Homo sapiens: one gene and its partner. The protein of the gene in region 1 interacts with the protein of each later gene in a biochemical or structural test. Each region holds a gene or a part of one and is shown on either strand. Other genes may lie near its edges.

The links.
Region 2: the proteins of CTIF (region 1) and SLBP form a complex in vitro, tested with the Homo sapiens proteins (one study listed by BioGRID).

The regions. Positions count from the first base shown.
Region 1 is NC_000018.10:48,536,677-48,552,248, reverse strand, and holds the start of CTIF (CBP80/20-dependent translation initiation factor), read right to left. Parts: upstream 13,219-15,572; 5' UTR 12,937-13,218; intron 12,562-12,936; exon of another isoform or gene 12,418-12,561; intron 12,247-12,417; exon of another isoform or gene 11,912-12,246; intron 1-11,911. UniProt on the Homo sapiens protein: Specifically required for the pioneer round of mRNA translation mediated by the cap-binding complex (CBC), that takes place during or right after mRNA export via the nuclear pore complex (NPC).
Region 2 is NC_000004.12:1,690,657-1,706,228, forward strand, and holds the end of SLBP (histone RNA hairpin-binding protein), read right to left. Parts: intron 13,045-15,572; coding exon 12,940-13,044; intron 9,415-12,939; coding exon 9,355-9,414; intron 9,046-9,354; coding exon 8,908-9,045; intron 5,696-8,907; coding exon 5,546-5,695; intron 4,185-5,545; coding exon 4,118-4,184; intron 3,058-4,117; coding exon 2,941-3,057; 3' UTR 2,075-2,940; downstream 1-2,074. UniProt on the Homo sapiens protein: RNA-binding protein involved in the histone pre-mRNA processing.

The DNA of each region.
Region 1 (15,572 bases):
TTGCTTAAATGTCCCCGTTGGAAGAAGTGCCCTCATTTTCTCATCTATGAAACAGAAGCTGTAATGGCTAATGAAGACAGCACATGCAAAGTGCTTACTATGACACCACAATACTTAGCAACTGTTAGGCTTTGAAAGTTATTATTAGGCCAGGCACGGTGGCTCACGCCTGTAATCCCAGCACTTTGGGAGGCCTAGGCGGGCGGATCACGAGGTCAGGAGATAGAGACCATCCTGGCTGACACAGTGAAACCCCGTCTCTACTAAAAATACAAAAAAAATAATTAGCTGGGCGTGGTGGCGGGCGCCTGTAGTCCCAGCTACTCGGGAGGCTGAGGCAGGAGAATGGCGTGAACCCAGGAGGCGGAGCTTGCAGTGAGCCGACATCGCGCCACTACACTCCAGCCTGGGTGACAGAGTAAGACTCCGTCTCCAAAAAAAAAAAAGAAAAAGAAAGTTATTATTGGATCACCCAGGTTTCAGGAGAAAGACCACCTGTTCAATCCCTGCGTTTACAGACATCTCCCCACTGCCCAAATGCAACAGCTTGCAGGCCAGAGTCCACACAGGCCTGGGTTTCTAGCCTGGCTTCCCTGTGTGACCTCAGGAGGAATGCTAACTTTTCAGGTGTATCTGCAAAAGAGAAGAATAACAACTACACTCAGAGCTGAAAGATGAAATACACTTAGGGGGTGAAGTCCTAAACACAAGCATAACACACAATGCATGTGTATTAGTATCCATGGCTGCCATAACAGAGGACCACAAATCAGGTGGCTGAAAGCAACAGAAATGTATGATCTCATAATTCTGGGGGCTAGAAGTCCAAAACCAAGGTGTGAGCAGGGCCACACTCCCTCCACAAGCTGCAGGGGAGAATCCTTCCATATTCATTTGCTAGGGCTGCCATAGCAGGCCACCATAGACTGGGTGGCTTCATCAGCAGAAATGTATTTATTCTGGAGACTGGAAGTCCAAGATCAAGGTGTTGGCAGGGCTGGCTTCTTCCAAGGCCTCCGTCTTGACTTGCAGATGGCTGCCTTCTCGTTGCATCCTCACACTGTTGACCCCATCTGTGTCTTATCTGTGTCCTCTTCTTCTTTTAAGGACACCAGTCATACTAGATTAGGGCCCACTCTCATGATCTCATTTTACCTTAATTACCTCTTTAAAGGCCTGGCCACCAATCCAGTTCTGAGGCGCTGGAGTTAGGACTTCAGCATATGAATTTTGAGAGGACACAATTCAGCCCAGAACAGGATAGTTGATTACCTTTCTTCCTCTTAGGGAGGAAAACATGTAGAGATCCGTAAGTTCTCGTCCAGGGCACTGTGCAGTGCCACACGGAACTGGTTTGGAATCTGGACAGATAACCAAATGAACAAGTCCCTTTCTAGAAATATGTATCTTGCCTTAAAAATACTTTTTTTTCCATGAAGCATGGACCCTGTGGCCGGCACCACCCTAGCCCTATAGGAAATGCCCTGATGACTCCCAGGACAGTAGCAAGGTGCTCATGATCCCAGGGGACAGATAGGCAAGTATCCAAGGAATGATGAGGAGGCAGGGAGTGATGGGAAGTGCTAAGTGCTCTAGCAACCCACAGACTGTGCTGTGGGAAGAGGGGGAGGAGGACACAGTGACACCCTGAGCAGAGTGGAGAGGAGCCCAGAGGGGACAGATTTGTCTCTTAGCTTGCATGGTCAGCCCCACGGCCTGGGCTGTTTGCATGTGTATGTATAGAGGGGATAGTGGTTTGGGGAGGGGAAGGTGGCATCCACCACCATCTTCCCACACCCTGCATTCCCTGGGGCCAGGCTTCCCAATCAGCAGGGACAACAGAACTCATTCTGCAGAATGTGCAGGCCACAGCTGAGCACCAATTCCTCTCCCCAACCCACAGCTGCCTGCAAAGGTGACTGCCATCCTCTACCAACCCACTGGAGCCTCAGGCCCTCAGGCCTTTCCAGTCCTGCTGCCTAGGCCACCAGTGACATATGCTCCCTCCCTCTGGACAATTCTGCCTACTGGGGTTCTCCACCTGGCCCCAGTGTCGGGAAAGTGGAGGAGCTGCTGGGAGAACAGACCACAGAACCCATGTCCTGGGACCACAAAAAAGGCATCCATGGAACACCTGGGATCCTATGCACCAGCATTACCTGTGGCTTAAGAAGTAATAATTACCAGAAATGGCAAACCTATAGTGATATAAACCAGGTTGGTGGTTGCCAGAACTAGGGGGTGAGATTTTAAAAAAACAAACAAACAAACAAAAACCTCAACAATATTGAGATATAAAAAAAAGTAAAGCTAATTCACTAACTCCCCCCCAATAAATAAAAACATCTTGAAACTTGGTGAAGTAAATGTTCCTCTTTGCTTAGCCAACCATTGCTCCCTTCCCCACTTCCTTGCAAACACAGCTTGCCTCTTGCTCTAGATGAGGCGAAAGCACCAGGGACTTGCTTTCTCCTCCTCCACTGGAGCGGAGGCATGGGTACTGACCCGTTTCTCTTCAAGGAGCCTTGATAGAATCTTCAGCAGGGGAATTCTGGGAAAGGCTTCCCTTCCTGACAAATTAAGACAGACAAGGAGAATCTAACCTTCCTGCCTGCCTTTGGACGCAGTTATGTGAGAACATGATGCCCGGAGCAGTGGCAGCCATGCTATGACCATAAGGGGACTGGCCTGAGAACAAAGGCCAATGTGCTGAAGATGGCAGCCTAGGTTAGACAGAGTCCTTGAAATGATCGCTGACTCCCTGAATGAACCAACCCTAGAGCTCCTACCTTTAGACTTCTGGCTGAGTTGAAACACCTTGTTTTTAAAGCCATCGTTAGTACACTGTTCTTTTACCTGTAGCCAATAACATCCCACAAGCCCGATGGTTTTCATCTGTCCATACTTCCACCCCAATCCCCAAACTGAGATCATGGTGAGATATAAGATAGAACCCTGTGGCTGTAAACTGAGCCCCATCTGAATTCTGAGTTCAGTCCCCACAGATAATGCTTTCCCCTACGTCCTCTAAGCAAAGGAAGGAAACAGCTGCCAATTCCTCTTGTGCACGAGCACCTCCCCCATCACCCCTATGTGCACCCTGCAGTATAAATGACTGATAACAGTGTCTGATAATAGTGTCAGGTATGACCCACATGCATACGCCCTCCCTGGCCCATGTGTCCATAAGCCCTCACCTACCCAGGACAACCTCAGTTTATATCTGTGTCCCAGCATGATTATCCATTGGAAAAAAAAAAAATTCACAGTCATCCGACTTCTGGCTGCCTTGGCACCCTTTTCATTCTCCTGACCCCATACTTACCACCTTACACTAGCGCAAGGCTATTCTGTCTTCCCCAGCAAGATGGGCAGATGGGCAGCAGGGACCCTGCCAGGCTTACCTCAATTCATCTCACCTCACTCCTAGAGCCAGACCCACTGCAGATACCATGTGTGTCCACTAAACTGAGGCAAAGGTTAACAGCTAAAAGGATTAAGGCAAATCAATAGAATGTGGGCAGAAGAAACCATTTTTAGAGGGAGAAGAGGAGAAACTGGGTGCTTTCTCGGAATCCCTGACCTTCACTATTGGCCTTGTCTGCACAGGGTCCTTCATGCCAGTGGCAGAGCACATCCAGGCACGTCCAGCCATCTGATGCAACCTTGCTGCAAAGGCAACGCATGCTCTTTATTACCCAATCTGCTGAATATGTGACCCACACAGATGCCAAGCATCAAGGAGATGGAGGAACAGAAAGACATTTTGCTTCCTGAGAGTGCCCAGGGTACTGTAGGTAGATACCGGAGACAGATAAACCGCATGCTGTAAAAAATACTTTGCTTGTAAACACCAGCCTGTTTGGTGACATGCCAAGATGTGAATTCTCTAGCAGGTCACTTTCTTGATCTCATGGTTCAAACGTGTAAGTATCTCAGCAAATGCCCCAAGAGTGTGGGACAGGCCTGTGTGTTCCCAGCTACTGGTGAGATCATGATACTGCCTACCCCAGGGGAAGGCCCTATAAGGGAACAGCATGGGGAATGTGTCAGCTCCACCCACTCTGGATGGAACCACACACATTCTTTCTGAATCCCTTCAGGGCTCAATTGTCATAACTACAGTTAGGCATTACCATATCTCTGCCTCTCTGTCTCCCTCAGAGAGGTTACTTTCATTTAGCGAGGCACACAGAGAGCGCCCAGCATTGTGCCTGGCATTTAACAGGCACTCAATAAACTCCCTGCACTCAATAAATTCCACACAGCTCCCTGCATGGGATTCCCAAGTTACTTACTTATAAGCTGAAATGTATTCTGGGCGTCGGAGGAAGGAACTTGCAGCAGGTGCTGCTGCCTCTCTCATGATCATCCGAAAAGCACCGAGCCAAAGCTTCTCAGAACTCCCCCATCACAGACTGCGCCTATGCAGCCGGCTCAGCTACCCTCACATCTATCTTCAAAAGCTGCCTCTGTGTGAAGTAAGTTAGGACAGAAGTTGGCTGGATTCTCACAGAATCTCAGCTTGACAAATGGAGGCCCTTCCAGCAGAAGCAAGCAGGATGGTGAAAGGTCTAGAAACCATCTCTCACAACAGCTGCAGGGGCCATGGGTGAAAATGGCCAGCGAGGAGGGTGGCCAGAGCTCAGTACAAGGCCTTTCCAGCTATAACATAAGGGAAGGCGCTGCCTCCAAGGCAATAAACTCCCGGCCACAAGCAGCAAGCACATTGGAACCAAGCGCTGCTGCAGTCAGGATTCCCACACCAGGTGGAGGGTTGACCAGATGACCTCTAAGATGTCTCCTGAGTTTGAAACTGTAGGAACTAAAGACTCTGAGCATGGGAAGACAATGTAGTGCCCAGTCTAGAGGACCAGTAGCAACTGCAATCTGCACAGGGCACCCTTAAGGGGACCCTGGAAAGAAACCTTATCTGTAAGAACCTGACCTGAGTATGCAGTAGGGAGAATGTTCTGGGCTTCCTAGACGGGGCTCATCTGAAGTTTTTTCCTAAGAGATGAAGGCTTGGATGGAACTGTCCTTCTCTGCCATCCTGCACATGCCTCCCCGAGTTGTGCAGCTGTCTCCAAGGCCCTTTTAAAAGGTTCCTACCGAGGGGCACCTCTGCCCTTTCTCTTCTCTCTCCTCCCTCACTTACCCTGCCCTGATCGCAAAGCATCTCCCAAGGTGGAGATTTAAGTCAGCAAAGGGCAAAGAGCCCCAGACTCTCCCCAGGCCCCTGATGCCCTAGAGCTCACAGTCAGGAAGACACTGGCCCCCAAGTCTTTACATGCTAATTTCTCTCTTGAGGGCCTCCTGGACCACATGTGTAGTGGACATTCAAAGCTCTAACAGGCCTGAGGTCTCACATTTCTAGGGAAGATTTTTCTCCACCTCACATCCAGGTCAAGACAAAAAGCAGCACACCCACTTTCCATCCCCCATGCGGACGGGCTGCTGTCTAGTCCATCCTTTCTCCCAGCATGCAAACTTTTACCAGGTCCTGTTTTAGGCAGGGCTCTTGATTCCTGGTATCATCTCTAGTCTCGGAGGAGATGCAGTCACGACTCAAACCCTTGGGCTTTGAGGCCAGGAAGCACCCCTCAACACCTCTCCCAACCCCCAGGCCTAGACGAGCCTCAGCTGGAGCTCACCGTCCACACTGCCTGAGATCCCTGGGGATTTCCCTTACATTCCATGAGCTTAGCTCTTCTTTGAAAGGACGCTAGCTACAGCTTACACAGCCTTTCTAGGTGCTCTGTCATTGGAAGGTTTTCAAGATTTTTACTCCACTGTGGTACTAAAAGTATTCTAAATCAGTCTTGGGATGCCCCTTTTGGACGTGCTTATGGAAACCTTCCCTGACTGACCTCCCACCCCAGACGACTAACTCTGGGTACATCCCTGCAGATCCACAAACATAGACTGAACACACACTTACAATGTGCCAGGCACTATTGTCGGTTCTGAGAATTCAAACATGCAAAGACTGGACGTTTGCCTAAAACACATCAGCTCTATAAAAATGAAGTATGGCAGGAAGAGAGGGATCTGCAACACTCTATTTAAGTTGCATTCCACTCTTCCCTGGGGTTGTTACAGCTTTTTAGTGGCTTCATATGTTCATATCTTCTCTCCCCAACAAAACTACCTGCTCCTGGAAGCAGGTTCCAGGGCTTCCCCACTCTGTACACTCCAAGGGGCTGGGACAGGGCTCTGCTCACTGTGGATGTTAAAAAGCGAAATGCCTCTCCCCTAACTCACTCTAATGCTTCCAGCTGAAACACGCTCTTGGCTGTCGCTGGATTCTGCCAGCTGGGCCTCCAGCATGACACAGCATCCCCGCCTGGCTTCCCTGACGACAGCGGCCGGCATGACAAAGGATTATCTGACAATGGGAGGAAGAGGTCTGCTCTCATTGTCTACAGCAGCCCTCACCGTGGTTACGCTCAGTGGCCAATGCTTCCCCGCTCCCAGGGCTCAGCTTGGGCACACACTTCTGCAGCCTCTAGCTTGCACAGTGCATTGTCTGTAGGGCAGCACCACCCCACTATCCTACCAGCAATTCCAATTCAATACCGGAGCACTGAACTCACCATGATCTTCCCTCCCACCCCAACCCCAGCAGACCCTGCTCCAGCAACCAGAAGTTCGCACCTGAGTTAAGAGCTGCCGTCCATCTAGTCAGTGAGGCCACAAACCTGGGAGCCACTGAGATGATTCCCTTATCCCCCAAGTCTAAGTAATCACTGCGGACTTTACTCCCAACTAATTTTAATGTATGACCTTTGGTCCATCCTTAGATGCATGGCCCTTGTTCCAGGTCTCACCCCCTATGACCTGGATGCCGTGGAGAGCCTGTTACTGCCTCACCAGTCCCATGGCCGCCTGGCTCCCAGTCCTGTTCCCTTCCGATCCAAGCAAGGCTGTACACCTCTCTGATTAAAGTCCTTCCTCTATGCCTTACCTGCAGGCTAAAAGCCAAGGTCTGAAACCAGGCTTACAAAGCTCCTCCACTCTGAGCGCTGTCTGCATCTCCGCCTTTGCATTTGACCTCACTGCTTGCGGTTCCTTCCTACACCCAGGCAGCCTCATGCCTCCACACCCTGCGCACGCCATGCCTTCTCCCTGAATGCCCGTCTCCCATCTCCTTTCCTGGCCAGTTCCTTTTCATCCATTAAGATTCAGCTCCTGAGCCGTCTCCTTTAGGAAGCCCTCCCTGACATCTGAGGCCGGAGCAGGTGGCTGCCCCTTGTCTGTGCCGCTGTAAGGGCCTTGGGCTTCTCTCTACCTAGACTTCCCACATGACGTTGAATGGAACTGTTTATGCATCTGTCTCTCCCACTAGAAAGCTGGCTGCTTGAAGGCAGGGGGCTGTACCTGTTCACTGTCATAGCCCCAGGGCCTAGCACAAAGACAGGCATAGAAAAGCAGCCCGACAACTACTGTGAAGCTCGCACCGACTGCAGGATGATCAAGTAAACCTCTTAGGTCTGTTCTACCCACCCCAAGCACCTAGTTGCCCCCTAACCATTTTTGGGCCATTGCCCCAGCCTAAAACCTCCTCCACCATTACCCAGGCCTACTCCCAAATTCACCTCATCCATGAAACCATCCCAAACTGGCTCCACTCTACAGATCGTTGCTATGGTAACTGCCTCCCATACTTTATCTCCCCTACCCCTTGGGTAAGTGAGCATTTGGGTCTGGCTCTGTGGCCGAATATGAGTGAACAGTAGGCATTAAGAAGCTCTGGGAAGTTCAAGGCTTTCTGTTCATCATAATGATGTCAGACAGCAAGCCACCTCAGCCCTGAGCACTGGACCTGAAGTCTGAAGTCAGGGTTCATATCCCTGCTCTACTGCTTACTCGTGACTTGGGCATGCCACTAACCATGAAGGCTCAGCTTCCTGCTCTGCAAAATGGGTATAACAACAACTGCCTCACAGGCTGATAACGATAACCACCTATTATAAAAGGCAGATGGGATAATTTGTGTGAAATAGTTTGCAAACTGTAAAGCCAAATCAAGTGCAGCGTATTAAAGTAGCCCCAGTGTCAACCAACCACTATCCAACCTTTCTGTCCTTCTCCCTACCAGTAGTTTTGTCCTTACTTGAGTCAGTTGAGAATCAAATGAAATCTGTAGATTCTCTTCCTAGAAAAGTACACACGCATCCCAGCTTTGCAAACACTTCCAAAAGGTTCCTGAGGACCCTGCCTCAGGGCCAGAAAGCCACAGACCAAGCTTAAGAGCACTGTAGGACACCAAGACACCCTATATTTCCCAAATACAGACCTTCATTTGCTCATGAATGCCAAAGATGAAGATAAGGCAGGAAGGGCCAGTTGTGAAGGAAAGAGAAGTCAAATGAATTTCAGAGCCCTTCCCAGAACCAGAAGACAGGAGAGAAGAAGATAAAGAGTTCTCACTCTTTGGGAAGAACCTAACTTTTTTCCAGAAAGCATTACGGTACATAGAAAGAAGATTGGATGAAATCTCAAATTCCAGGATTTTTTACCCACTCTGCTAAGGGCTCACCATGACCTTAGGCAAGTCATTCCACTTCCCTAGGCTTCAGGTCTTCACGTGAAGATCAGATCATCTTCAAAGTCCTCCCCAGCTCTGGGTGCCGGAGATCCAAGGATGTGTCTGTTCTCACCCCGTTGTGAACCACAGCTCTGGCCTTAATTCCAAAGTCAGAGGCATGCTGAGAGCACGGTGCTAACACAGGGAGAAGGCCACCATTATAGCAAGGTTCTAAATTAAACCGCACACAGCGGGAGGCAGGGGCAAAAGAAAACCCAAACCTGAAAGGAAGCAGCTGAGCTCAGGGTGCCGGTGAGTCAGCAGTGAGGCCCAGAGGTAGACGCCCCCTCCCCCTGCCAAGCCAAGGACATCAAATGGGGCTGTGTTATCAGGTAAGTTATGCAGAAATGCCACCACGTGTGGAGAATTCTCAGAAACTGCAATTTGCCTGCATGTTTGTACCTCCTGTTCTCTATCTGGGCTCAGGATTCTCTCTCCAACCTAACCACCCATCTCCTGCCTCCTCCTTCATGACCTGAGCTGCAAACAACATAACCTTAAAACAAGGGCAATGGAGCCCAAAACAGAAATGAAATTAGAGGACAATATCTGGGACCAGACGGTGAGTTTGGGATTAGATAAAAAGCAGACTTGTATTAACACACCTACACAGACCTGTAAGGCAGAAACTCCTACACCCAGGCAGGGCCTGAGTGAGACCTTGACCAAAGCCACAGCCTGTCCCTGAGTCACAGCACATCTGAGCTGGGGCGGGACCACGGAGAACATCTCCTTAGCTCCGTGTCGCCAGAAACCTGTTGGTTGGCTTCAGGGTAATTTCCATCAGCTGCCTAACTTCCACAGAAGAACATACCTCTGGGCCCTCCCGGGAGGTTGCAAACAGCCTGAAGTTCAGGGTAACAAGGCTATCAAGGTGTTTTTTCCCCATCGCTTCCTTCTGCATTTGCTCTAGAATAAGAACTGGCATCTTGGGCCCCTTGAAACCAACATATGTGAAACTAAGTTCCAGGGTGACTGCTCTAAAATATTTATGATTTGTTCCCTCCTGTAGGCTGTGTTATTGCATTGCAACTTAACTATCTCTGCTCTACTATCTTTGTAGAGAAGCAGAGTATCTGGCCTAAGTGAGGCTGGTGCTTCATAAACATTTGCTGGACTTAATTAACATTTGTTAAGTTTTCTTTGTATGCACTTCTAGATACACAAACATGTAGGTGCCCAGTACATATTGAGTGAATGGTTAATTAATTGATTAGTTGGCTAAACTTAATAACCCTCCAGGCTGTCTGACAGCCTTCACATGCATGAATTCTGAGAAATCCATGCAGGCATGTATAAGTTCTTTGCTCCTTGAATTCAATAAAGACTCAATGAACACAGCCATACAAACACAGGTAAGTGTTACATGAACAGGCATACCATATACATTTATTATATGCACATATGATTCTGGTAGAAACTGGATGTATCACAGCTGCTATCCATTCACCAACAGCAAATTATTAAATGCGTGGTAATAACAGCAATGCAGACTTCCGTTCTTTAGTGGCTGCTCTCATTAGGAATGGTTAACAAATCAAGAGTGTTTTGAGAAAGAATATGTGTCAGCATAATATACTCTATTTTTTAGCTTCAGTATTTCCTGAGGTGTCAAGAATCCATACTCAGAAAAAAAGTGGCCACTATTAATTAAATGCCATAAGCTGAGAAAAGGGGGAATGTGGCCCTTCCCCCACCCAGAGGCCTTATGCAAGCCACATTTTTGAGCCTCAGTGTGTTCATCCGTAAAATGGGGCTAATACTCTCCTACCTCACAGGACCCTCTTAATAAATGCTATGATATCTGGCGGGGGAGGGGGGAGGTTCTGGGGGAAGAAAACCTGCCCTGTAAGGTCATACAAACATATTATTATTCTAGCAAGCTGTTAATCACTGATGACACTGTGCCCTAGAATGTGTTACAAAATTGCTGCCTCTGAGCATCCATTATCCAGGACAGATACTTGACACAGATGAGGTGATCTGTGTGTAAATCGAATCCTGTGTCAAACACTCAGGAGTTTCCCCAGACAACCTGAGCGTGTCCTGGCCATCCTCTAGCGTCTGTTCGGTGCATTCTGTTCACGTATAATTGGGTTTTCTTGAAAGCCAGGCCATCTCCTCGCGCAGCCCGAGCCTGCTAGGAGCCTGGATTCCTGAGGTTTTCAGCCCAGATCGGGCCCTGGGCAGGAGGAACTGGGAACGGACAGCCGGCGGCCCCTCCCTGCGCTCTGGGCGGCTCCTTCCTCTCGGCCCTGGCTCCAGCAGCGGCGGCGCTCTCTCGCGCTGTGTCACTTTCGCCCTACGGAGGCTCTAGCCGCGGCCGAGCCGGCGGCTCCAGCGGCTTCCTCCTTGGTCGCGCGGGCCCCTGGACTGGGGGATAATCCTCGGGCCGCAGAGACACAGCGCCGGGCGGGCGGCGGCCTGGGCCGGGCTGGGGCGCGCTGGGCTTGGGCTCCCACTGTCCCCAGACTGAAGAGCCGGGGCTGCGGTTGGCAGTCGCTGACTCTCTCCCCGGTCTGCGAAGGCAGCGGCGGCGAGCGCGGGCACGCACACCCATAGAACGCCTCGGTGCGGGGTCACCCCAGCGTGGACTGGGGGCGGCGCAGCCAAACCAACCCCCCGCGCCGCCGGGTGGACCCCCAGTCTGCCGGGTCACGGGGCGTCGCGGACGCGGAGGGAGGGGCTGTGTGACTCCGGCCGCACAGCGGACCTGGGACTCCTGCACCGAAGACCAGCACACGCGACCCTACGGTCTTCCCCGGCCCACAGCCGCACGGTCCCCTCTCCAAGTAACTCGGGCGCGCGCGCGCGGGGACACACGACCCCGACTTAGACAAGGAGGGGGCTGGCGGGACAGGTCGCGCGGAGGATCGGGGCCCACGCTTGTCCCCACTACGCCGCGGTCTGCGGTCCCCGCCCCCCACACACACCGGAGCCGTGTGTACACACAAACAGCCGGGCGGGGGAGGCGACGCCTCACTCCTCGGGGTGGAGACGCACGCGGCGCCGCCAGTCAGCCCTCCCCTCTACACGCCGCACACCCCGCGGTGCTCACACCCCCCAGCCCCAACCCTGAAAACTCCGCGGAACCAAACAGAGCCAACGCCGCCCAGATAACGGGCTCGGACCACCCCCCTCCCGATTGTCTTTTACCATCAATAGAGAAACACTCGGCTCAGGCGCGCGGTGTCCCGGACGCCCCCTCCGGCCACATCCAGGCACCGGCACGCGGCCCTCCGAGGCCCCAGACCTTCGCCGCAGCCCAAGCCATCGCCCCCCCGCCCGCCCTCCCCCATGACCGGCGCCCGGGACAGTTACCTGCTCGTCGTCCTGATGAACCCGAGCCGGAGCCCACCCCACGGCCTCTCGGGTCACTCGCCACCCAGAGGTGGCTTTTCAGAGCCTGTCAAGTGAACCCCTCTCCGCCGGGCGTATCTATTCCCCAGGCCCGATTGCACCGCAGCGACAGGAATAATAAAAAAAGCCAACAGAACCACAACCGTTGGGAATAACCAAAGGGGAGACCGCAACGGGTCCACCGATTTGGTTTCTTCCTCTGCTCCCATCCCCCGCTCCCCCCGCGGCCCGCGGGCTCACCGGGGACGCAGGGAGGGGGCTGCGCCCTGTCTAGACGACAGCCATCCACAGACATCCCCGAGCCCGCGGGGACGGGCGCGCACACTCACACACGCCCGCTGCCACAGACACAATCAGTCACCGGGGAAGGGAGGGGCGGCGTGGCGACACACTCTCGGGGTCCCTCCCGCAGCCCCGAGTGCCGCAGCCCCCGGCCCCCAAACGCCACCCCGAGACGGGCTCCCTACCTCGGCGGAGCGCGGTCTGAACAGCTGCAAGTTTGGCTGATACTAAACCAACTGCTCGATGCAGCAAATGCGGGCTTCAAAACAAAAGGGAGAGGAATCGCGCTCGCTCTTTTCCTCCTCCCAGGTCGGAACCCGGCACATGACAGCGGCTACACCGCGCAGCTCCAAAGCGAGCCGGGCTCCAGCCGTGCGTCCCCCAAGAGCCCCCCTTGGCGCCGGAGCTCCAGGGCCACGACACCCCGCGGGGCGGGGAACCCGGCAGGGAATGGGACAAACCCAGGGAGGGGGCGACACTGTGGAGTGCAGTTCCCCACCGAGGGGGAGGAGGGGATGGTAGATGGGTGCGGACACCCCGCTGGCCCAGGAGCAGGGATGGGGGGAAGGGGGCTGATTGTTTGGGGCGGTTTTCCCGGATTTATCTATAAGCACGCCCACGTCACGCAGCCCTCCTCCCGGGTCCCCGAATCGATCAGCAAGCTGAGATGACTATAAGAGGAGGACGGGCGAGGAGATGCTCACCTCGGGGTTCCTCTGGCCGCCGCGCCAAGCCCGAGTCGGGGGTGGGGGAAGGGGGCAGGGAAGGGGAAGGGAGGGACGAGGCTCCGGAGAGCCGACTCCTGCCTCGAGTTCGGAGCGTCCCAGCTGCGGAGGGGATCGGGCGCCCCAGCGCACAGACCCAGCAGAGAGGGGAGGGAGGGAGGGAAGGGAAACAGGGAGGGAGGGGCGGGTAGGGGGGAGGGAGTAGAGGAAGGAAAAAAAATGATCCCTGATCTGACACAGGGAAAGAGAATGTAGGAGAGTGACGTTCAGGCCCCGCCCTCCCCTCCGGCCACGTGCAAAGACTTGAAAGGAAAGAGGGCGGCTGGAGGCCTGCTGGGTAATGTAGTTCGCCTTTCTTTTCCAGGATGGCGGGCCCTGGAGAGCAGGGTGGCCCCAGGACGCTCGGGATGTCGCCTTAGCTGCCAAGACAGCCCAGTCTAGCGACGCCAAAACCCGCCGCCCAGCGACCCCACGGCGCTGGCGCAGCCCTGGGTGGGGGCCTCTGCGGTGGGAGAACTGGGGGCTTAGGCGCAGTCCAGGCTTACAGGGAAACGTTGGTTTTAGAGTCCGAAAGGCTTTAAGGATGAGAACGTCCGTGCCGAAAGTGCAAAGTCTGTGCTAATGGCAGATGAAAAGGAGCTTTGTGTATGCACTGGGGGGCCCAAGTGGCGTGATTAATGCTGCACTAAATGCCACCGTCGGTTATTGAGATGCATATGTTATAATTAACATTTGAGCATCTCTGTGTCGGGGGCTGGCTGTTGTAATTAGATACGCACTTTGCAACCAATTAATTTTCCTTCGGCCAAGCTAAGGGCTGGGACGGGGTGGTTGGGAGAATTCAACGTAGTGGATAATTCAGTAATGACTTAACCAGATCACCAATGTTTTGGTTAAAACTGAGCTTGGCACAGAGAGGCCTTCAGGAGAAATACTGAATAAAATACTGTATGCCCCAACAGGGAAGGGGGCTAGAAATTCATTAGAGGAACTGTGTGATGCAGTATAAACTGCTGTAGAAACCCATTTATTCATTAGTTTATATTCACATTTAGTGAGCACTTTCCACAGACCAGGTGTGTCTAGGAATGCCAAAACAGGTAAGACTCACAGTCTCTGCGCTCAAGGAGCTCAGTCCAGTATTAGGGACTACAGTCAATGAAAGTATTATACAAGGGATAAGTCAGCGCTTAACACAAAGTGCTGTGAAATTCCCCCCACCACACAACCTGGAGCAGCCAACTGGATGGAGGGTGGGTGGGGTCTGGGAGAGGGTCAGGAAGACTTCCTGGAGGAAGTGATACTTGAGCAAAGAATTTCTAAGTTTTTTTTTCTTTTTTTTTTTTTTTGGAGACTGAGTCTCTCTTTGTTGCCCTGGCTGGAGTGCAGTGGCGTGATCTTGGCTCACTGCAAGCTCTGCCTCCCTGGTTCATGCCATTCTCCTGCCTCAGCCTCCCAAGTAGCTGGGACTTCAGGCGCCCGCCACCACACCTGGCCAATTTTTTTTTTTTTTTTTTTTTTTTTGTATTTTTAGTAGAGATGGGGTTTCACTGTGTTAGCCAGGATGGTCTCCATCTCCTGACCTCGTGATCCACCACCTGAGCTTCCTAAAGTGCTGTAATTACAGGCTTGAGCCACCGTGCCCGGCAAGAATTTCTAAGATTTTTAACAAAGAGAGAGGAAAGGATAAGCACCTGATTAAGGTTAAAGGGTACAAAGGCTTCAGATGAGAGAAGAGAGCTAATTCGAAAGGTCCCAGGCCTACAATCCCAGCAGTTTTGGAGCCTGAGGAGCTCAAGACCAGCCTGGGCAACATAGCATGATTCCTTCTCTACAAAAAATTTAAAAAATTAGCCATGGAGAGTGGCATGGGCCTTGAAGGATGGGTGGGATTTTGTTTTGTGTGGAGAACTTGTCTCCCGGGCTTGAGACACAGAACAGCATAGACATTCACATCCTATAGAACAACTCATTTGATTCTTGTACCAAAGGCCATGGTGGCTGTCATTCCCTCCCTTCAGGAGGGAGGCAACAGGCCCAGAGAGTTAAGCAACTCATGCCCAGCCATGATTCGGTACAGAGTGGGTACTAGAGGCCAGTTGTCTGGGTGGCAGGCAACCGTCGTCCACTCCAAAGCAACAGGTTTAAGCACACCTGACTCTTCCCGTTGGTTTGTCCCTCTTAGCATTTATGCCTCATTGGCTCAGCAGTGAGTTATTTGTATGCTTTAACATCTGGACAATTTCCTGGGTTTACAAAATATTATATAATAATACTGGAATATACACATTCAGCAAATTCCCATTTACTTACCCTGTTGTCATTGTTGGTTTTTACATATTGTGTGACAGGCATGCCACCTGCAAAGGAAATAAGAATAAAATTGTCTGGGTTTTGGCTTTGCTTTTGCTTAAATCGCACCCTCAGGTGAGGAGAGGCTAGAGGTTGAGCAACATGTGGAACGTGAAGCTTCCACGGAGAGCACACACCTCCGTTTGGGGTATGCACCTAGGGTGAGGGGGCAGTGGGAACCACAGGCTCTGGTGTCAGTGTGACCCCTGGGTTTGAATCCCAGGCATGATACGTCCTGGCTCTGTGACCTTGGGCAGCTTACT
Region 2 (15,572 bases), on another chromosome or scaffold:
ACAGGTCCCATACATGTGTTGTTAGATTTGAAACTAAGCATTCTAGTTTAAAAAGCCCAGAATCTCACCTGAATCCACTGCCTTGTGGAGGAGGCTCCTGACAGCTCCTGTGTTGAGCCTCTCTCCATGTAAAGACTGTCCCCAGCCCCCACCACACACATGCACACACACACACACACACACCCCCACCGCAATGAACAGCGGGGACAGACCTAGGACACCTGCTGCAAATGCTCCCAGGAGTCCCTGGCCCACAGCAAGTCTGAAATCCAGCTGGGCACACATCACCTGGCAGTCCCCTAAGCCAGCCTCAGTCCTCCAGGCTCCTGGCTCCATCTCTGAATTATCCTTCTTTTTCACAAAAGGCAGCCTGTGTTTGCAGCTGGAGAGTTTTATCTTCCTACTTCCCGCTGGTAGGAACCTGAGGGTTCAAGGCCTCTTGTATTGCCTGGCCCTTTCAGTCCAGCCTGGCAGCAGCTTCCGCCCATGTTAATTCTGTGACTCTTAATAGGGTTCAGTTCATTAGAAGCCACACCTGTGGGGCTTTTCAGACTAGCACCATCTTGGGCTCCTGCAGAGGAGCAAGAAGTCTTATTGAGGGAAAGAAAGGTTCTAACAGCTGGGCGCGGTGGCTTACACCTGTAATCCTAGCACCTTGGGAGGCCGAGGAGGGCAGATCGCCTGAGGTCAAGACCAGCGTGGCCAACATGGCGAAACCCCAACTCTACTAAAACTACAACAATTGGCCAGGTGTGGTGGTTCACGCCTGTAATCCCAGCTACTCAGGAGACAGGCAGGAGAATTGCTTGAGCCAAAGGAGGTGGAGGTTGCAGTGAGCTGAAGGCACACCACTGCACTCCAGTGAAAAGAGAGAGAAAGGTTCAACTTTCTATGGTTAACAGAGGATTTCATGCCACACCCTCAGCTTTAGCTTAGATCACCTTTCCAGCTGTCTTCTGGATGTCATTTTTGCTTGGAAGCCACTGAATTTTAGCCTAAGAGCACTGAGTGCTGCTCATCGCTAAGGACCTGCTCACAGTTTAGGGGAAGTAGCTCCTTAGTGACAAACCCAGGAGAGCTGCTCTCCGTCAGTCATGATGGAGGCCACAGCACCACTGAACTGTCACCATCTAACAAGGACCTTCACCTCTGCCTTCTCAAGACTGAGGCTTGCAGTCAGGCCCCCAGAACTCCTCCCACATTTTAGGACTCTTGAAGTCAATGCTGAGTGCTCCCACTTCGTGGCCTCTGCTTGCTGCCCTCCCCAGATGTCACCTTTTATCAGGCACCTCCTACCACCCTGAAAGAGCTGGGTCTCCTCACCAGGGCATGTGCTACAACCCCAGTGTCTACCACCCTCCACCTGACACTGCTTGAGGTCTCCATAAACAAGCTAAGTAAACAAGAGCTTCTGCCCTCTTCAAGCTCCTAGAACAAAGTTACCTGAGCCCATCCCTGGCTTAAGACCAGCCCAGCATCACTTGGAGGGATCTCCGGGACAGGTCGCTGTGGCGTGGACTAGTGGTCACGTCTGCAGGCAGCAACCACGGTCCAAGGGTGAAGGCAGTGGGAGCAGGGCACCCTCAGACTGATGATTATCCTGCTGCAGGGTCTCTCCCAAGAGACAGGGAAGGCTGTCATGCCAGTGCTGATGAATAAGCATCAGACCAAATGTGACATGTGACACCTATTAAAGAAGGCCCCCGGCCACACGCAGTGGCTCAAACCTGTAATCCCAGCACGTTGGGAGGCCGAGGCAGGCAGATCACTTGAGGTCGGGAGATCGAGACCAGCCTGACCAGCATGGAGAAATCCTGTCTCTACTAAAAATACAAAATTAGCTGCGTGTGGTGGCACATACCTGTAATTTCAGCTACTTGGGAGGCTGAGGCAGAAGAATCGCTTGAACCCGGGAGACAGAGGTTGTAGTGGGCCATGATTGCACCATTGCACTCCAGCCTGGGCAACAAGAGCGAAACTCTCAAAAAATAAAATTAAAAAAATAAAGAAGGCCCTTTACCCAGCGCCACTCACTGAGTGCCACTTGCTTCAGACACAAGAAAGGCAGACACAATTCTGACCCTCCAAACATGTCAGCTCTCACGGCAGCTGGCCCACCTGGCAACAGCCCCAGTCAGTGAAAGAGGGTTCTTTCCTTTTTATTTTTGCAATATCCCATACAAAAGCAATAGAAACGTAACAGTCTTAACAAGAAGTTTACAATTGAATATTTGAACAGAAAATCTGTACACATTATCATTTACAGCAATTTTACATGGTAAATTAACTGATTGTTTTAAAATGTTCTTTCTAAATCGCTCCACTCTGCTGCCCTAACTCTTGGAGTATTCTAAAGAGTCTAACTAGTGCTATTTACAAGTACCAAATTAAGACCATATAACTTACATAAAACTCATTAGTTTAATAGCTCAATTTAACAATGTCTGACTTCAGAATGCTGTTATGACATATTGATAAAAGGCCAAAAATTAAGTTTCCATAAAGATATTAAAGGTGTCTGAGAATACTTTGATGCCTATAAAAGTAGCTGACTCTCAATTGGTCCCATGGATTACATGGTTAAATCCAAAACAGTCCACCTGACAAGCAATAACTGAAGATGCCTGTGGAAAACCAGTTATGTAGACGTGTCAGCTTACCCTGGAGGACAACAGGGATTACGCAATTAAGCTCGCTGGAAGAGAGCTTCAAGTACTTTCTTGGACTTAGCTCCATTTACAATTTAAAACATGCAAAATATACTCACTATACATAAAATTAATGTTTCTTAAGAAAGTAAGGCAAAAATAATTCAGCATGAGCTAATGGACTGCTAACAGAGAAACCACCAGGTACAAGTGCACACACATGCTTGGTGCCTGGCCAGCCTTCCACCTAGTCGGGGAGGAGCTGTTTCTCTTCCTGGCCGCCAGGGGGCAGTTAGCTCATGGCTGAGAAGTCTCTCAAGGGTTCAGTTAAACAAGCTTCCAAATCAAACTCATCCTCCACTTGACTGTCCATGTGTCTCACCTTGGTGGGTGTGCCAGAGTACACATCCTGGAAAACAGAAGCATGGCTCGGTTGACATTCATCTCACCCTGAAAACAGGGGCCCCTTCCTACACCCCACTCCTTATGTGGTAAATCATGTGATGTAATGCACAGCAAGGTGTACACTTCACGTGCAACTGAGACAGATTTTAATAATAACACTGCAAAGAGAAACCACATGTACCATTTACAAGACACTGACGTTTAGATGTGCACACATCCCATTGTGCTGGGATTACAGGAAGGAGTCACTAGTCACTGTGCCTGGCCATGTACATAGTTTATAAGCACAGAAAGAATTGTAAAAGCCTAGACAAAACCACAAATAGTGGCTGTCTCAGGACAGGAGACAGTATTTAAACTGATACATTTAAAAACGGTTTTCTTTTCTCTTGAGACAGAGTCTCACTCTGTCACACAGGGTGGAGGGCAGTGGTACAATTTCGGCTCATTGCCACCTCTGCCTCCCGGGTTCAAGTGATTCTCCTGCCTCAGCCTCCTGAGTAGCTGGGATTACATGCCTGCATGACCACACCCAGCTAGTTTTTGTATTTTTAGTAGAGACTGGGTTTCACTATGTTGGGCAGGCTGGTCTTGAACTCCTGACTTCAGGTGATCTGCCTGCCTCAGCCTCCCAAAGTGCTGGGATCACAGGCGTGAGCCACCACGCGCAGCACATGGTTTTCTTTCTTTTTTTTTTTTTGAGACAGAGTCTTGCTCTGTTGCCCAGGCTGGAGTGCAATGGCGCCATCTCAGCTCACTGCAACCTCCACCTCCTGGGTTCAAGCTATTCTCCCACCTCAGCCTCCTGAGTAGCACGGACTACAGGCACCCACCATCATACCTGGCTATTATTTGTATTTTTGTAGAAACAGGGTTTCACCATGTTGGCCAGGCTAGTCTTGAATTCCTGACTTCAGGTGATCCGCCTGCCTTGGCCTCCCAAGGTGCTGGGATTACAGGCGTGAGCCACCGTGCCCAGTCCAAACTTCAGTTTATAAGGCAGCATGTGTTATTAACAATTCACCTGCAACCCCCAAGCTGAAAGACTTATCCAAAGTACTTACAAAGTCATCCTGAGAGCTGGTCTGGGGCTCGGAGCTGCTTTCTGCAGATTCAAGGTCTACAGGGTGTCTGTTAAACAAGATCCAACATGTGCGTCAGGCACTAACTTAACAAAGCCAGGAGACGGGGCGCTACAGACAAACCCCATCCATATGGTACAGCCACAACACTGACAGTGTGCCCGAGGCTCCCTGAGGGGTCAGCTTTCAGTGACTATTTGACAGACTTAATCCCAGCCCAATCAATCCAGCAAAGAGAAAGCGGATGGCAATGAGAAGCAACAAAAAGATCTGCTGGGCTCACCACACAAGCATCCTTGGAAACAGAAACACTCATAAGCCCAATTTTTGAGGGGGAGAAATGAGCACTGTGATGAACATACTATGCATTATCACTAATTTTTCCAAGTTTCTACTCAGAGAATGGGACAATGGTGTCACACTGGGGGAAAAAACCCAAATGACATCTGTCAGGACAAACTGGTAAAGCCACTTACAATCGTTTCAAACATGCCAGTCTCTAAAAAATTTCCCAGCACAGAGGAGAAACTCTAATTGTTTGTTTAAAGAATGTGTCTGAGGAAGCGAGAGGCTCAGGACCAGAGGGGAGCTGAGAAGAAACCCCACATAGAGGGAGGGAGGTACACGATCATTCTCTCTACCTTCCTGGTCAGCAGGTATTGCCATGATGCAGCAAAAGTTCAGGCCTGAGACATTTCAACTAGGCACAAGTTTAAAGGCCAACGGGGCTGGGAGCAGTGGCTCACCCCTGTAATCCCAGCACTTTGGGAGGCTGAGGCGGGTAGATCACAAGGTCAGGAATTACATGGTGAAACCCCGTCTCCACTAAAAATACAAAAAATAGCTGGGCGTGGTGGCGCGTGCCTGTAATCCCAGCTACTCAGGAGGCTGAGGCAGGAGAACCACCTGAACCCAGAAGGTGAAGGTTGCAGTGAGCCGGGATCACGCCACTGCACTCCAGCCTCGGTGACAGAGCATCTCCCAAAAAAAAAAAGCCAACAGAGAAAGAAAGCCTTCCTTCCTTAATTAAGAACTTTTATTTTCATGGTTGAGCCGAAATGACTCAAATACTTTTTAGGATATTTATATTTAAAAAACAAATTCCAGAGATTATTGTAATTTTTAGGGGAAAAACAACTACAACAACAAAAACAGCAAAACAACAAACAAAAACTGTATTCCCAGATTGACTTTGCTTGAAAAAATAAATTCAATCCAGGAAGCAAACTCTTCCTTCCAGCTGCCTCCCTCCCAGTACAGAAGAACTCAGCACCGAGCTGCAGCAGCTGCTCTGCTCCCCAACAGCTGCTGGGGGACTTGGCACCAGACCTCCTGTCCCAGTGGTGCGCAGCTGCTCCAGTCACTGGACCAATCAGAGAATCACAGGACAAGAATGCAATAAAGACATACATTTCTTGCAAATCACATCCTTCTTCCGCTGGAGGATCCCAAAAATGCAGAGCCACCTTCCAGAGTTTGATTTGCTGGTCCCATGAACGTCGACTATACTTCTTAAATTTATTAGGGGTCTTGGGATGAATGCCAGGTTGTCGAAGGTGTCTACAGGAGAAAGATTATTCTAGCACATGCCCACATGCCACTCACATTTCCACATTAGCCTGAAGATTAACCAAACTATGAGATTAGTATTATTTTAAATATTACAGATCACCAGGCATGGTGGCTCATGCCTGTAATCCTAGCATTTTGGGAGGTCATGCCAAGATCACTTAAGCTCAGGAATTTAAAAATGGCCTGGGCAACACAGTGAGACCTCGTCTCTATTTAAAAAAAACAACAAAACAGAACAAAAAAACAGCTAGGGGCTGGGAGCGGTGGCTCACACCTATAATCCTAGCATTTTGGGAGGCCAAGGTGGGTGGATCACCTGAGGTCAGCAGTTCGAGACCAGCTTGGCCAACATGGTGAAACCCCGTCTCTACTAAAAATGCAAAAATTAGCCGGGCGTGGTGGCCTGTGCCTGTAATCCTAGCTATTAGGGGGCTGAGGGAGGAGGATCGCCTGAACCCGGGAGGCAGAGCTTGCAGTGAGCCGAGATCGTGCCACTGCACTCCAGCATGGGCAACACAGCGAGACTTCACCTCCAAAAAAAAAAAAAACAAACGCTGCTGGGTGTGGCAAATCACTTGAACTCAAGAGCCTGAGATCAGGCTGGCCAACATGATGAAACCTCATCTCTACTAAAAATACCAAAAATTAGCCAGTCATGGTGGCTTATGCCTTGAGTCCCAGCTACTCCAGCGGCTGAGGCAGAAGAATTGCTTGAACCTGGGAGGCGATGGTTGCAATGAGCCTAGATCATGCCACTGCAACTCCAGTCTGGTCAACAGAGCAAGACTCCACCTTAAAAAAAAAAAAAAAAAAAAAAAAAAAAAGCCGGGCACAGTGGTTCACGCTGTAATCCCAGCACTTTGGGAGGCTGAGGCAGGCAGATCACCTGAGATCAGAAGTTCAAGACCAGCCTGGCCAACAGGGTGAAACCCTGTCTCCACTAAAAATACAAAAAACTAGCCAGGCGTGGTGGTAGACACCTGTAATCCCAGCTACTCGGGAGGCTGAGGCAGGAGAATCACTTGAACCCATGAGGCGGAGGTTGCAGTGAGCCAAAATCGTGCCACTGCACTCCAGCCTGGTGACAGAGGGAGACTCCGTCTCAAAAATAAATAAATAAATAAAAAATCAACTGAGATCCTACAAAATGAACAAATATGTTTAAAAAAATTAAAAAATTAAAAAGCACTATCCGGGCCGGGTGCGGTGGCTCACACCTGTAATCCCAGCACTTTGGGAGGCCGAGGCAGGCAGATCACCCAAAGTCAGGAGTTCGAGACCAGCCTGACCAACATGGAGAAACACCATCTGTACTAAAAATACAAAAAAATTAGCCCAGGCATGGTGGCGCATGCCTGTAATTCCAGCTACTTGGGAGGCTGAGGCAGGAGAATCGCTTGAACCTGGGAGGCGGAGGTTGCGGTGAGCCAAGATTGCACCATTGTACTCCAGCCTGGACTAGAGTGAAACTCGGTCTCAAAAAAATCACTATCCGCTGGGCACAGTGGCTCACGCTTGTAATCACAGTACTTTGGGAGGACTACTTGAGGCCAGGAGTTCAAGACCAGCCTGGGCGACATAGGGAGACTCCCATCTCTATAAAAATTTAAAAGTTTAGCCAGGTGTGGCGGCATGCACCGCTGGTCCCAGCTACTCAGGAGGTTGAGGTAGGAGGATTGCTTGAGGCCAGGAGTTAAGACTACAGTGAGCCATGATGGTTGGGCGTGGTGGCTCACCCCTGTAATCCCAGCACTGTGGGAGGCAGAGACAGACGGATCACGAGATCAGCAGTGCGAGACCAGCCTGGCCAATATGGTAAAACCCCATCTCTACTGAAAATACGAAAATTAACCAAGTGTGGTGGCAGGCGCCTGTGGAGGCTGAGGCAGGAGAATCGCTTGAACCCGAGAGGTGGAGTTGAAATTGCGCCACTGCACTCCAGCCTGGGCAACAGAGCAAGATTCCGTCTCAAAAAAATGAATACACAGTGAGACATGATATAACACTGCACTTCAGCCTAGGTAACAGCAAGACTCGGTCAGGAGGGAAAAAAAAAAGCACCATCACATTGAATCTTACTATTCCTTTGCCAGCTATGTTCCAAAAAAGTAAAAAAAAAAAAAAAAAATTGTTTTTTTTGAGATGGAGTCTTGCTCTGTGACCCAGGCTGGAGTGCAGTGGTGCAATCTCGGCTCACTGCAACCTCCTCCTCCCAGGTTCAAGTGATTCTCCTGCCTCAGCCTCCCGAGTAGCTGGGACTACAAATGTGTGCCACCACGCCCAGCAAATTTCTTGTATTTTTAGTAGAGACGGGGTTCCACCGTGTTAGCCAGGGTGGTCTCGATCTCCTGACCTCATGATCCGCACTCCTCGGCCTCCCAAAGTGCTGGGATTACAGGCATGAGCCACTGCACTCAGCCAAAAGTAAAATTTTTTTTTTTAAGAGACAAAGTCTCATACTCTGCAGCCCAGGCTGGAGTGCAGTGGTGTGATTAATGGTTCACTGTAACGTTGAATTCCTGGGCTGAAGCAGTTCTCCCACCTGTCTCCCAAGTAGCTGGGACTACAGGTGCAAACCACCACACCTGGCTAATTTTTAAATTTTTTGTAGAGATGAGGTCTCCTTATATTGCCCAGGCTAGTCTCCTGGCCTCAAGCAGTCCTCTCGGCCTCCCAAAGTGCTGGAATTACAAGCATGAGCCATTGCACCTGGCCCAGAAATGTAAATTTCAACCCCAATCCTGCCAAAAAGTTCAGGAAAACACTAAAGCTTTCTTTATATCCTTCTGTGTCTGTGTGTTTGAGGGACCAGGATAGGCAAGAACATGCTGCTTAAAGACAATAGGGCAATGCCAATTTTTTTTTCTCCAATTAGAATTTTACAATATTTAACTTGAACTTCATTTTTCCCCATCATGTATTTTAATAAGCTTACATCTATGATTGCTGACTCCTAAGAAATAAAATGTTATCTAACATTCAAAATTATATGAAAATGATTTTTAAAATCTTCATGTCTTTAGTTTTCCAGTTGCCAATCCATTCTTTATTTACGTCATAAGCCCCAGTAAGTCCCTATTAAATAGCTCTTAGCAGGTGTGAACTATCCCCAGCATCATTTGTACTACCCAATCTAAGCAACTCTTTAGAAACGCAATGCCACACAGCTTGTTCAAGACATGCCACTGAAACAAGACTACCTTGGGACTTCTTTAATATAACGATCGTAGGCAATTGTGTTCTTCCCATAGTTGATCTGCTTCTGTCTCCTCATTAGGACACTTTCATCTGTCTCAAAGTCAGCCGGCACAGTAGACATAGACTCCTTTGAATCAGAACTGAAAAAACAACAGATTAACAGAATAAGCCCTGCAATTAAGATCACCATGTATGTAAGGTAAGCCAAGAAAATGTCAAAACACAATAATGGAAGATTCACTCCAGATTCCCAACCATATGAATCCTAAATAGTCCGGAGACTGCATGTATGGGAATTTAGTACACAACAGATACAGTATTTCAAATTAGTGAAAAAGGTATTAATAAATGCTACTGCGACAGTCAGCATTTCTGACAGTCACAATTTTTTTTTTTTAACAAATTACAGGTCTATCAAATTAGAAAAGAAACATTTACACAGCCTTTACCTTCCTGATGATGATTTTCTCTCTCTTCCAAAGTCATTGATGAGGAGTTTCCTTTTATATCTGAGGGCAAAATAAATATTGCTGTTTTTAAAAAAGATATAAAAATAAAGCAGCCAGGTCTGAGGAAGCTCCACCCTGATGCCCGCAGGCACACCATCCTATGCAATCCAGAAGCTCCGTGGGCCAAAAGAAATCTTTGTCAGGTTCAGTTTAAGTAGTGAGATCCACACAACAAAAATTTACATTCCCTAAAACTTGGCAGCCTTAAAAAAAGAAAAACAAAACATAAATTGAAATAAATTATTTTAAAAACACCAAACTTACTAATGGGACTCATATGCCTACTGGGCACTGCATACCTTCTCCAATCCTGGAGACCAAACGTGCCCCCTTTTCTCTTGTTCCTCATGAACTTCCTGAGGCATCTGCTTTCTATTGCAGTCATTACCAGAACGCAGTTTTGCAAAAAAAAAAGTATGACATCTCCAAAAGGAGTCTAGCGCAATCTGACGTTGAAACCACGAGCTACCTTGAGCTCCAAGTTCATGTGAGTATCTTTTTTTTTTTGAGATGGGGTCTCACTCTGTCACCCAGGCTAGAGTACAGTAGCACGATCATGGCTTACCACAGCCTCATATTCCTGGGCTGAAGCAATCATCTCACCTCAGCCTCCCAAGCAGCTAGGACTCCAGGCAAGTGCCGCCACAACCATCTCCAAAAAAATTTTTTTCTTTTTTTGGAGACATGGAGGTCTGTGTTGCCCAGGCTGCTCTTGAACTCCTGAGCTCAAGCAATCCTCCCGCCTCAGCCTCTCAAAAGTACTGAGATCAGGAGTGAGCCACCACCCCTGGCCTGTCATGCAGGTATCTAAATTATGTCATGTATTACTGTGCCTCCTCTCAAAATCTAAAATCCACCCAAGTTTGCTGAGGTGTTCAGTGCAGTTTGGACGCCAGAAGGTAATGAAGTAATTTATCTCCCGTGCATCTAGAGTAGCACTGGCTATATAACACCATCTTTGTACGATTCAGAGATTAGTCCTGCAAATCATTTGCTGCAGGGCCTCATTCTCTCCAGTACCACAGATGAGAAAGACTGGTTTTCAGGTATGATGAAAATCCATTTTCTTTTTTTTCTTTTTTTTTTTTTTTTTGAGACGGAGTTCCCTCTTGTTGCCCAGACTGGAGTGCAATGGCGAGATCTCGGCTCAGTGCAACCTCCGCCTCCCGGGTCCAAGCGATTCTCCTGCCTCAGCCTCCTGAGTAGCTGAGATTACAGGTTGCTGCCACCACGCCTGGCTAATTTTTAGTATTTTTAGTAGAGACGGGGTTTCTCCATGTTCGTCAGGCTGGTCTCGAACTCCTGATCTCAGGTGATCCGCCCGCCTTGGCCTCCCAAAGTACTGCGATTACAGGTGTGAGCCACCATGCCATGCAGAAAATCCATTTTCATACTCTTATATTGCTAGTTTGTAGTCTGTTAGTCTCCTTAAAGCATAGTAAGCTGACATTTCATACCGCTCTTACTGTCAGGAAGTAAGCCGGCCTGTCAGTAATGGCTCACTAAAGGGCCAGCAGTTTAAATTACACAGGTTGCACTAAAAGCTGCAGCTTTGGCCAGGCAAGGTGGATCACGCCTATAATCCCAACACTTTGGGAGGCCGAGGCGGGCAAATCACCTGAGGTCAGGAGTTCAAGACCAGCCTGGCCAATATGGTGAAACCTAGCCTCTACTAAAAATACAAAAATTAGCCGGACGTGGTGGCACACAGCTATAATCCCAGCTACTCGAGAGGCTGAGGCAGGAGAATCGCTTGAACCTAGGAAGCGGAAGTTGCAGTGAGCTGAGATTGCATCATTACACTCCAGCCTGGGAAACAGAGCAAGACTCCATCTCAAAAAAATAAGTAAGTAAATAAAAGCCGTAGCTTTCCATCACAAAGGGTATAATCAACAGAGCAGCCCAAACAGTGCTGTTTTCCAAAACAGGACAATTTTCAGGCACAGACCCATGAGATATCTGAAGAACAAATAGGGTCCACTCACAGGACAATCTGGACAGGTGGAATACGCATGAATAAGAGCTGCAGATAACCCCTGGCAAGGGGTGACTTGAGGGAGCAACTAGGCTATCGGTATGCAAGAACTGTTCTAAGACTTGTGCATGCAACACAAACTATACAAGTCAAGTCAAACATTCTAATTTTATAATTGAGGAAGTCAAGACCTATATAAATGCAATAATTCACTAAAAACACTGGTACTCTCATCTGTGAACTCCTAGTTCATTTCTTCTACCAAGGCATACATCCACCCACACATTTTGATACCAGAAGAAATGACAAATAACTCCCCCAAATGTTCAATAACCAATTCCCACATATTCCCGTCCCTTTTCAAAGGAGGCTGATATAAATACCATCACTGGCTGCCAAAATGAAAACAGGTAGTCTAGGTATCGTTCCGCGGCTGACACGCAAGACACATTTTTCTTGAGACCCTGTTTATCAGCCACTTGTTGGCTAAAATTATCTTGTAAAATACTTCAACCAATTATGAGCCACATTTTAACTGGGTTTGAATAAACCCAGTCCTTGCAACTGGGTTTGAGTTAGACAACTCATCAAAAGAGAAAGGATCAACACACTGATAATCAAGGGAGATTAAACATGGTTAAGGATGCATTAGGTAATGAGTCAACGAAGACGAAGTAGCTTAGTTTGCAAGAACTTGGATACACACAACAATCTTGTGTGCAACTGCAAGAGGTTCACAGAATCCAAGTTTGAGACCTTTCCTTGTATGTTGGCATTTCTGAGCTGTTTGTTGCCTAAGCCAAGTGTCAATGTATTCCTTCATCTGGAGAGAGCACTCCATCTACTGTGCTGGGTTGTGTGAGCACCGCACACAGAAGGTCGGTGGTAACAAATGACTATAGTAAGTTCCTGATAGTTAGGCCGGGCACAGTGACTCATGCCTGTAATCCCAGCACTTTGGGAGGCCGAGGTGGGCGGATCAGGAGTTCAAGACCAGCCTGACAAACATAGTGAAACCCCATCTCTACAAAAAATACAAAAATTAGCCAGGCGTGGTGGCCTGTGCCTGTAATCTCAGCTACTCAGGAGGCTGAGGCAAGAGAATCGCTTGAACCCGGGAGGCAGAGGTTGCAGTGAGCCGAGATCTTGTCACTGTACTCCAGCCCGGGCAACAGAGCGAGACTGTCTCAAAAAAAAAAAAAAAAAAAGAAAGTTAGTTCTGATAGTCCTCCAGCCTGCAATCCAGCAGTAACACCATTGTGCACCTACTTCCACTCTTGGAAGGATTACCACCAAGAGGACAGTGGTCTTCAAGCTTGAAAGAGTGGACCCGCCTGGAGGGCTTTTCACAGGATGGCCAGGCCCCACCCCATTCGCAGGCCCAGGGAAGGGTCTGAGAATCTGTATTTCTAACAAGTTCCCAGGAAATGTTGATGCCTTTGGTCTGGAGCCCAGACCTTTGAAAACCACTGTTCTAAGACAAATATCAAATTTAATGTGTTACTGAAAACGCCACAGATTAACACTTCAAGGTGGTCCAAAATGTGTACCTTGCCATTTCTTTGTTAACTCTGGTCCTCATTTCATCTTCTTCAACTGCACTTGCCCAGTCAGAGCATCTGGAACGGGGTTTAGGGCCTTCAGGAGTGGTAAAGCTGCAATAAAAGGAAAATGCTACTGAACCATGACACATACTTTGTTTTCTTTCAAACTGTATGTCAAGAAATATTCAAAGGCTGGTGGGACACAGTGGCTTGTGCCTGTAATACCAGCACTTTGGAAACTGAGGTAGGAGGATCACTTGAACCCAGGAGTTCAAGACCAGCATGGGCAAGATAGTGAGACCTCATCTCTGTCCCCCACCCAAAAAAATAAAAGCATTATATCAGTGAACTATGTGTATCAAACCATACTAAACTGGAGTTTAGCAGGACAAAAGCAAACTAGATGTAGAACATAACCTATCAGCTGCATCTGTCTATCCAGGGCTGTCTTACTAGAGCAGAAGTCATGGAGCTCCTTGGCAGTGTGCCCACTGTGTTTGGGGGTCTAATAAAACCAACTAGATTTTAGACTTCAAACTAAATTATGATTCCTTTTGGGTGTCCACACTTCAGTAGTCCAGGGCTATCATATGGCTGAAATCAACTTATTTCGTTCATCTCTGGTATGTGTTTATAAAGTCATTAAGATGGGAGATTTGCTTCAAATTTTTGCAGTGTGTGTGGCAGTCAGAAAAACCCATATCTAGTTTTCAGCTTCAGTTCTGGCATTTCTATGGGTTAACCTTATCTCATTGATCCAACATCCGGCCTGATGCTGGAGCTTATGAAGTTGACTCTAAGAAGTTCAGAGAGTGTAGAGTTTCCCATCTTGTATTTAATTTGTCTCTATGCCATTAGTCCCAGCTTGAAGTCATTACCAATGTCAATGTTGACAGGATTGTGACAATATTGCCTTTCATAAAACCGACCACCAAAGAATTCCATTATTCTAACAAAGCCCGAGTTTCACAGATCGCGGGCACATCTAGACAGATGTGTGCATGCTTGACGGTGCAGAGCAACTACTCACTTCCAGCAACCTCGTGCTTCCCCTGGCTGGCCATACAGAGGGATTCGCTGTCATACTGAGAAGGCTCTGCAAGGTAAGTCTCTAATTGAGGCTATCTCAGGTGGGTGTTTCCGCTGTGTAGTCCCAAGCCTGTATCCATATAATAAAAGTGCAGGTCTGGCATTCCTCCAGGTTATCTGGCCAGTGTAGACTCCTCCATCTGAATATGAACCTCCAGGGTAAGAATTTTCCAGACATGTCTATACTAAACAGTATGATCCTGTACTTGCCAAATGTCTGCCTCCTCCTGTTCTGCACTGACCCATTCTTTTTTTTTTTTCTTTTTGAGACGGAGTCTCACTCTTGTTGCCAAGACTGCAGTGCAATGGCATGATCTCAGCTCACTGCAACCTCTGCCTCCCAGGTTCAAGCGATTCTCCTGCCTCAGCCTCCCGAGTAGCTGAAATTACAGGCATGAGCCACCACGTCCAGCTAATTTTGTATTTTTAATACAGGCTGAGTTTCTCCATGTTGGCCAGGCTGGTCTCGAACTCCTGACCTCAGGTGATCCACCTGCCTCGGCCTCCCAAAGTACTGGGATTATAGCTGTGAGCCACCGTACCCAGACTGCACTGACCCATCCTAATTCCTGTTAAGTGTGAGAAGAATTGTCTTCTGTTCTCTCTCCATTCTCATTCATGATGAGATTACTGATCCATTAACCAGTTGAGAAATGACTGATGCTGAAGAAATGGTATTCTATTGGCAAGGCTTATTAACAAACTTCTGATAATGAAGCAGGCTACCAAAAACTTATCCAGCCCACCCCAGGAGTGTTTGGATTTGATCATGGATGTAGCACACACCAAAATCACTAAGACTTTAGACTACTTGTTTTATTTTGTCAGATTATCATGGGACTGTCTTTAGTTCTGAATTATCTGTAAGTCTGAGTACTTCATAGAATTATAAAGCAGGTACAGCTGACACCTTCTCACCATGTTGTAAATATTTACTGAGACTGGGTACAGTACTGAGGGATGATAATCTTCTGATTTATCCAATGCTGACTGTCTACAGCAAATTGTCCACTCTGCAAATGGTCCTGTAACGTGTATGAATGTATTTCTGGGTGCCTTAGAAGTTGTCTTTTTCATGTGTGCTAATATGCAGTATTTATACATTGTGAGAAGTTGATTTTAATAAAAAGGTTGGAACGTCATCTCCAAAATAAATAAATACCCAAGCATGGTGGGGCGTGCCTGTAGTCCCAGCTACACAGGAGGCCCAGGCAGGAGGATCACTCTAGCCCAGGAGGTCAAGGCTGTGTGAGCCATGATCCTGGCACTGCACTCCAGTCTGGGCAACAGGGCAAGACCATATCTCAAAAAAATATATATGGTGGCAGAGGACAGTGGCTCATACTTGTAATCCCAGCACTTTGGGGACGCCGAGGCGGGTGGATGACCCAAGGTAAGGAGTTTGAGACCAGCCTGGCTAACATGGCGAAACCCCATCTCTAATAAAAATACAAAAATTAGCCAGGTGCAGTGGTGCGCACCAGTAGGCCCCAGCTACTAGGGAGGCTGAGGCAGGAGAACTGCTTGAACCCCAGAGACGGAGGTTGCAG